3 separate regions of the Homo sapiens genome follow, and regions 2 and 3 are each linked to region 1. The links come from fine-mapping of genetic effects on gene expression. A gene starts in region 1. Each other region holds a variant in brackets. All regions are shown on one strand. Distances are from middle to middle. Region 1 holds the start of SMPDL3A (sphingomyelin phosphodiesterase acid like 3A). Region 2 overlaps PKIB (cAMP-dependent protein kinase inhibitor beta). Region 3 overlaps SMPDL3A (sphingomyelin phosphodiesterase acid like 3A).

What was found.
Region 2: its variant is fine-mapped to the expression of SMPDL3A in whole blood (INTERVAL, PIP above 0.99). The same link has a PIP of 0.9 or more in blood mononuclear cells.
Region 3: its variant is fine-mapped to the expression of SMPDL3A in monocytes after LPS (Fairfax 2014, PIP 0.95). The same link has a PIP of 0.9 or more in transverse colon.

The regions. Positions count from the first base shown.
Region 1 is chr6:122,787,910-122,790,676 of GRCh38, forward strand. It overlaps SMPDL3A (sphingomyelin phosphodiesterase acid like 3A), which reads left to right and starts at 1,349. Exons shown (of 8, transcript NM_006714.5): 1 at 1,349-1,549. The coding sequence starts at 1,438. RefSeq lists enhancers at 1,159-1,660, 1,661-2,160 and a silencer at 1,375-1,669.
Region 2 is chr6:122,708,739-122,711,505 of GRCh38, forward strand. All of the region lies in intron 3 of PKIB (cAMP-dependent protein kinase inhibitor beta), which reads left to right. Among named protein-coding and RNA genes, the nearest start is that of FABP7, 70 kb to the right of the region's middle. The variant G/A (reference allele first, on the strand shown) is at 1,505.
Region 3 is chr6:122,808,094-122,810,860 of GRCh38, forward strand. SMPDL3A (sphingomyelin phosphodiesterase acid like 3A) reads left to right here. Exons shown (of 8, transcript NM_006714.5): 8 at 998-1,627. The coding sequence ends at 1,315. Among named protein-coding and RNA genes, the nearest start is that of SMPDL3A, 20 kb to the left of the region's middle. The variant C/T (reference allele first, on the strand shown) is at 1,198.

The sequences.
Region 1 (2,767 bases):
CCTATAAATTTAAATTATTAGCTTGTCATCTCCAAGAGATCAGCATCCTCATAAACGGTGAGAGAAGGAACACAGAATACAGGATCCAGCACAGTTTCGGGATTCTGGCTTCTTTGCCAGACTTATCTTTGCTTACTTCTTTGTATAGACTTACTTCTTTGCCAGACTTATCTTTGCTTACTTCTTTGTATAGACTTACTTCTTTGCCAGAAGTATATTCAAAAAAGTTCCGTGGAAGCATCAAATCAACCACCTCTACTTATGATTTCCATGCATCTCTGGAATGCATAAAGCATGATTTCAGAACATGTTCTAATTCTAAGACCCTTCTCTTCCCGGCAGTTTAAAAAAAACAAAAAACAAAACGTCGTATCTTTGAGCATTGGTTTTCAAACATCACAATCACTTTAACATGACCTGAAATGCTTGTGAAAACACAAACTGCTGGGCTCCAGCAGGTTTCTGACTCAACAGGTCTAGGGTGGTGCCTGGGAATTTGCATTTCTAACTAGAGTTCCCAGGTGGTGCTAATGTTCCCAGTTCAGAGACTTCAATTCGAGATCCACTGCAGTATCCATAACTTTTGCTGATTTCCTTCAAATCATGATACTTCAGGGCTCTCTGCATCACCTCTACTGAGGAGCCCTACCCATTAAAGCTGGGGTAGGTTGGCCCAAGAATGGAACCGGGATCGTTGAGATTTCAGCACCCCAGCATTTTTTAGTGACTGAAATAATGAAAATTCTGATCAGGCTCCTGCTTGCTTGCACATTTTAACCACTCGCTTTTTGCCCAATATTCTCCTTGTTTCCACAATATAATTATAAACTGCTGAGGTACTGCTTCCTCGTCAAGAACAAAGAGGTTAACTTCAGGGTCACAAAAATGTTTGCAGAAGGGATGAATACCTCCAAGGGCTTTGCAACCAGCTGCGGATGCCTGGACGTCTAATTGCTCAAAGGTGTTATCTGAGACTGAAGAAACAGACTTTTCCCCTGGATTCTTTGAAAATCCCCCTCTCTTATTCTCTAGCAGAATAAAAACTCCCTGCTTTTTCCTTTTTACACACGGATTTGAGAGATCTTGTTCTCCCTCCTTCTGGCTTTTACTAAATTGAATGTCTTTCTCTATCCCCAAGCACCAGTATGTCAGTGTTTGACATCAACTGCACCACTGATACACGAGTCGGAATTTGAGCTTCTACAAGTACATTCCTTCCTAGGCCAAACACTGACGCTAAGAAATACGAGAACAGATCATCGCTAAACAGCAGCTGAAGGTCAGGCGAACTGACTCGCTGCGGAATCTGCCTTTGCACGTGATCAGTCGGACGTCTACACCCGCAGCCGTCTTCTGTCTCCGCCTCACCCTCAGGCCTGACGGTCCGAGTGGAGCTGCGGGACAGCCCGAACCTCCAGGTCAGCCCCGCGGCCCTCCATGGCGCTGGTGCGCGCACTCGTCTGCTGCCTGCTGACTGCCTGGCACTGCCGCTCCGGCCTCGGGCTGCCCGTGGCGCCCGCAGGCGGCAGGAATCCTCCTCCGGCGATAGGTGAGTTGTCCGCGACCCTTCTCTTCCCAGCCGGCAAAGAGCGCGGAGCGGCGGCGCCTGCGCACAGCAGGAGAAAGTGCGTGGGGGCAGCTGCCCCCGGCAGAGGCTCGGGCTAGCGGGGCCCCTGACGCGTCCGGCGTTGACCACGGCTGGTGGGCGCGGGGAGGGCGACCAAGGGACTACAGCGTTAGGGCGTCCAGCCGGGAGGCCGGGGCTGGGCGGGGGAAATGCCCTCGCCGGTGGGGGCGCTCCAAGGGCGCGTCGGCCGGATTTCGCCAGCCTGGCTTTTGTTTACATCCTGCATCTCAGTTGTTTTGTTCCTTGGGGAAGGAAGGAAAAGCTGCGGGACTCAAGGGAAGAGGAAGCTGGGAGTCCGATGTCCAGCACAGCAAGAGGCCCCTAATCGGTCCTGAATGGAGGGGGACTGCAGTTTCCCCACCAGCTCAGGGAAGTAAATTTCAGCGTGACTCACACTATCTTCTGTCTTGCTCGACCGAGATCAGTGGCTTTTTCTGCCACTCACCCAGCCAGAGCGCGAAAGCACCCTCGGGTAGACTCACCCCTTAGTCTACCGTGGAACTCACGGGGACTTCATTTCACCTGGATGTCCACTAGGTTTCCTGCGGGCGGGACCCATTTTATTCACTCCCAGCACTTAACACAGTGCCCGTTACAGTAGTGATTCTCTTAAGTGTGCCCTGGACCGGTGGCAGCAGCCGCCGCACTTAAAATTGTTAGCATTGCAAATTTCCAGCCCATCCCAGACCTACTGAATCTGAAACGCCGGCGTTGGGCTTCCACAGTATGCTGTTTAACCCACCCTCCGCATGATTCCTTTCGGCTAAGTTTGAGACTCACTGGTCCAGAATAGATACATTTTGGTGGGAGATTGTACAATGCCATCCGAGCCTCCAGTTCCAAAAATCAAGGTGCCCTCACCTCCTCAACTCCCTTTAAAAATAATTGCACTGTTAAGAGGAAAAACAAAATTAGAGAAGTGGGGTTCTGTTTTCTTTTAGGGGAGAGTTGTCCCTGAGACTCGGTAGCAGCACCTAGTGCTGAAACCTCTTTCGCTCCCTCTGTGCTTTCTCAGGACTTGGGAGCGCTCTAGGGCAAATATCTTCTCTTTGAAGGCCAAGTCCTCACGACTCAGCTGTCAGGTCTGAAGCAAAAACTGTAAATCTGGTTTCCGAACTGTGGCAAATGTCAGTCATTACA
Region 2 (2,767 bases), 79 kb before region 1:
TTCTACTGCCTCAGCCTCCTGAGTAACTGGGATTACAGGCATGCGTCACCACGCCTGGCTAATTTTTGTATTTTTAGTAGATACTGGCCAGTAGATATTGGCCAGGCTGGTCTCAAACTCCTGACCTCAGGTGATCTGCCTGCCTCAGCCTCCCAAAACCCTGAGATTACAGGCATGAGCCATCACGCCCAGCTGCGTTAATCTCTTTCTGCCTACAGTCCAACATCAGAGGCTGTCTCTAGAGCCACGTCAACACTGTTGCTTAAAAGAATAATTGATATTCATAATGATACTCTGTCATAGTGCCTATAAATTTATATGACTGATATCTAAATAAATTCCATTTGTGTAGTTGTTAACCAAGCACATTTATAACATTAGTTCATTTGAGTCCAGGGTAGTAAAATAGATAATATAAATCCTACTTTTTAAAAATGTAGAATGCTAATCAACAAAGAAGTTAGATGTCTTTCTAGAAGTTGAAAGTCCAGGATTCAACTTCAGAAGTGTTCACTTTTAGGCGACCAAACTTCCCATTGCTCCATATAGACCGTGTAACAAACAAGAGGACTAAGGGCAGTCACTTTGAGAGTGTGTTAATGCAGTTAAGTAGTGCCCAAAGCTCTGCTTTCAAATCATCATTTAAAATAGTTTTATTTTGAATATGTGCAAATCTAAATTACCTAAGGAGGTTTTGAAAAGTAGCTGAAGTCATTCTTAGTACAAAGAGATGGGATCAAGTGGGAGTTTTTTTTTTTAATTAAAAACAGTTTACTATAAAATACGTTATATTTTAAATAGAACATGTTACCACTATTTGATGTATGAGTATAAAATGAGTTGCAATGATGGAGTCACAAAAACAGTTTCAGAAGTGGAATAAATATGTGGCTACTTAAAGTAATTGCTTTGATAGATGATACTCATTTCCATCTATAAATTTTGGTGTGTTAGTAAAAATAGTTCTATTATTTGGTATCACACTGCATTTTCCCTTTGAAAGATAAATAAGTATATATTAATTATAAATGCTTTCTGAAATGAAAGTTTAAAATTTAAAGTGTCCATGTGTATAACCATCAGATGTCCTAGATGAGGGTCGTACTGTATGAGTTTTTGCAGCAACTACTGCTCTGGCTCTACCAATCCAGGTTTACTACCCACATCTAAAAACCATTGTATTTGCCATTAGTCTACAGCCTGACTCCTATCTATTTTGATGTTAACAAAACAAAATCTATTTTAATACTGAATAACTGAACTTTCAGTCTTATTATTTATTTACTTTTGATCTTTATTATGAATATTAATAATGTAAAGGACCTTCATTTTCAGCTCATAATCGATAGGTATCAGCTATTAATTCAACATTGATTTATTGATTGTATTAAGCAGATATGTTCCAGTCTCTCTACTAGGCAGAGGGATATGAAGCCATTTCTATTGTGACCACATTGGTAAGAATTAACTTCCCCTTCTCTTCTTCCTACTGATGTCATAAACC[G/A]CCATTTGACATTTTAAAACCATATATCTCATTGAAAAGGGAACTGACTTTTTAGGCCTTGCATGTAAACCCCCAACACAGACGGCCGTGTTCCCTCTTTGTAGGGAAGAGTACAAGCAGACCACAAGAACTTCAAAATCACATTGTACACAAGAACTTCAAAATCACATTATTTTCCCACTAGGGCAAATTCAGTGCTGGGGATTTTGTGTACTTGGAGTGTATTTGTGCCCCCTTTGAAATCTAAGAATACTTTGTGTACAATAGTAGTTGGAAAAGCAACTAAATGAGAAATGGGTGGTCTGAGGGCAGCCCTTCTCTGAAATTTGCTTACTTATTTTCTGGGGTTCCATTAAATGCTGTGTTCCCTGTGAAGCCTGGCCTCATTTTCTATCCTGGAATTAAGCGCTGCCTCCACTGCTCACGTGGTAAAGGTGCTAGCACGCAGCCTTCACAGACTGCCAGTTAAGGCATGGGAAGACCTTACTTACTGTGCCAAATTCCACAGTATCTAGCGTGGGGCTTTGCAGAGTTGGTGTTACATAAATGCTTTTTGAATTGAACCCTAACTTCTTTAAGCAGGCTCCAGTACCTCAATAAAATAAGAACCAACAATATTTGAGTCACTGGTTAGAAAGAATAATGTGAAACAAATGAAAGTGAAGGAGTATAAATAGGGTTTGAGGTAAGGTGGGAAAAAAAGAATGAGAAGGGTTTCTTCAAATCCGTGCTAAATCCTCTCAATTCTGAATACTCTGAAGCTAGAAATAAAAGCTAAACTATATAAAATGTAGACAGTAGGGATGCTTTGCTATGGTTATAACCACTTATATTCATCTAAAGGAGAAGTGAAAATATCACTGTATTCTGGATAACACCCAATATACATAGCACACACACACAAACACACACACCACACAGGGACACACACACCCCACTCAAGCTAATGTATTAAAAAGGAAACCTGTTTAATTTTTAGAAAGACTTTTTCATATACAGTGAATTTTCTTTTTTATTTTTATCCCTGTAGATAGCTGGGTTTGTTTTTGTTTTTTGTTACGGAAAGCAGCAGGAGGAATCATGGTAATGGAAGAAAGAGTACCGCCTAAACTTAGGAAAGACTTTGACACAAATTAAGCTATGTTATATTGATGCATCACTTAAGTGTCTGGATCTGGAAGTCTGGACTATATCATCTTTTCAAATGTAATATCCTGCAATCATGTGAGAAATTTATTAGTCCTTTTGGGAATCTGCAAGTGG
Region 3 (2,767 bases), 20 kb after region 1:
TCTAAATAATTTCTTAAAACACAACAACATATATAGTAAGACTCCATTTTTTTGAAAAAGCCAAAAATGTAAATAAGTATGCACATTCCAAATATTTATCTTTGTTTTGATCTAAAGCCTAGATCACCACGCATACAATGGAGTACTGACAAATGTTTAACAACTATTCACTGAGGGGAAATGTGCCTTAATTGGTAGTGTTTGCCAATTTCCATGACAGAAATACTCACATCATGGACAATTTCAAGCTACCAAAGTGCCACAGATTGACTAGCAACATTCTTAAAAATTTGACAGTCGGCTTTTGTGAGCTGGTACGAGCTGCCTTCAGCACACCACTGATACACACAACCATTAGTGATGGTTACCTCTGAGGATGTGTGAATTGAAGGTTTTTTATTTTGTTCACCTCTCTTTATAGTTTGGATTACATGCTATTATGTTCTTTCATCATTTTTAAAATTGAAAAAGTGATACAGGTTTTTTATTGAGCCTCCCTTCCTCCCTCCCTCCCTCCCTTCCTTCCTTCCTTCCTTCCTTCCTTCCTTCCCCCCCTCCTCCCCCCTCCCTCCCTCTCCTTCTTTCTTATTTATTTATTGAGACAAAGTCTTGCTCTGTCACCCAGGCTGGAGTGCAGTGGCGCAATCTCGCAATCCCGGCTCACCGCAACCTCCGCCTCCCGGGTTCAAGCGATTCTTCTGCCCCAGCCTCCTGAGTAGCTGGGATTACAGGCACCCACCACTATGCCCAGCTAATTTTTTTTTTCTTTTTTGTATTTTTGGTAGAGATGGGGTTTCACCATGTTGGTCAGGCTGGTCTCAAACTCCTGACCTCAGGTAACCCACCTGCCTCAGCCTCTCAAAGTGCTAGGATTACAGGCGTGAGCCACAGCGCCAAGCCTAAAATGTCACAGAAATTTAAACATGAACGCTTCTTGTTGTACAATGCCTTATGTGCCAAAAAGTGAACCAGGTTTTGTTACTGTTCTTAACTGCAGGATATGTTGCAGTATTACTTGAATCTGACAGAGGCGAATCTAAAGGGAGAGTCCATCTGGAAGCTGGAGTATATCCTGACCCAGACCTACGACATTGAAGATTTGCAGCCGGAAAGTTTATATGGATTAGCTAAACAATTTACAATCCTAGACAGTAAGCAGTTTATAAAATACTACAATTACTTCTTTGTGAGTTATGA[C/T]AGCAGTGTAACATGTGATAAGACATGTAAGGCCTTTCAGATTTGTGCAATTATGAATCTTGATAATATTTCCTATGCAGATTGCCTCAAACAGCTTTATATAAAGCACAATTACTAGTATTTCACAGTTTTTGCTAATAGAAAATGCTGATTCTGATTCTGAGATCAATTTGTGGGAATTTTACATAAATCTTTGTTAATTACTGAGTGGGCAAGTAGACTTCCTGTCTTTGCTTTCTTTTTTTTTTTCTTTTTGATGCCTTAATGTAGATATCTTTATCATTCTGAATTGTATTATATATTTAAAGTGCTCATTAATAGAATGATGGATGTAAATTGGATGTAAATATTCAGTTTATATAATTATATCTAATTTGTACCCTTGTTGAAATTGTCATTTATACAATAAAGCGAATTCTTTATCTCTAAATATGATGAAGTTTTCTTAACATGATAATTTTTAGTTAAAATCTGTGTATTAACTGAGGTCCAAATTGTTTACCTCTCATATGTAAACAGATGTTACCACTGTTTACATGCACTATCTACTCTTGGGAAAATACCATGGTCATTAGGAGCATGCTGAAACATCACAGGGCATGTATTGCCTAGCTTTCTTCATTCTGAGTCTTTGGCATTGCTAACTTTTAAGGATGAGAATGTCACACATACTTATTGTATCTGCAGTACTAGCACAAGGCCTGGGTCCTAGTCCAGTGCCTGGCACCTAGTAAATAATTGTTGAAATGAATTGAAAGCTGTGAATATTTTTCAAAGAAACGTCCTAGATTACAGTGGTGGCATTTTCTTTGTCACAGTATTCCAGGATAGGATAAAAATGAGCCTTTTATTTAATGGGATTGTTTTTAGGACTCCAATGGCTCAAGCTGTTTTCTGCTTTCAGGTTAAGTAGGAGAATTAAAGTAGAAATGGAAGGGAGAGTGGGAGGGACTGGGGGATTTAAAGGAAGAGAAGATTGTATATCCCAACACTGGCATAGTGGAGAAGACTGTTAAAGAAAAAAAGCTCATCATGACACTTGTTAAAGATGTTAAGGCAGATGTTATCCAAGGTAGGCCATAGTGGTAGGTATAGGGACCACTGCAATGGAATCCTGCAGTGAGGGAGAGAGAGTGGACTCAGTTCTGACTTCAACAAGGCTGAGTGGGGATTTATAACCAAGGAGCAGAGTGGGGATCAGTGAATGGAAAATTACCAGGAGGAAAAACATCAAAGGTAAGAGGTTTCTGGCTATTACCAGGAGGAAAAACATCAAAGGTAAGACGTTTCTGGCTATACCAACTTGATAGGATTATTGCCGAAGGCAGGCCAGTGTGATAGGATATCAAGGGCGGTCAGATACCAAGGGTGGGGCATTCTCCCTAAGCCAACTTAACAGGATTCTTGCTCAAACTGGATCCTGCAAGAACAAAGGAAGCCCAATGTTGGCCTAGTCAAGCAGAGGAATTGGAGGAGCCTGACTAAAGTTTTGGTCAAAAGAGAGAGTCTTTGTCAAGACATAAAATGAGCAACCTTAGATTGAGGAGAATGGAACTCATCATCCTTGTGA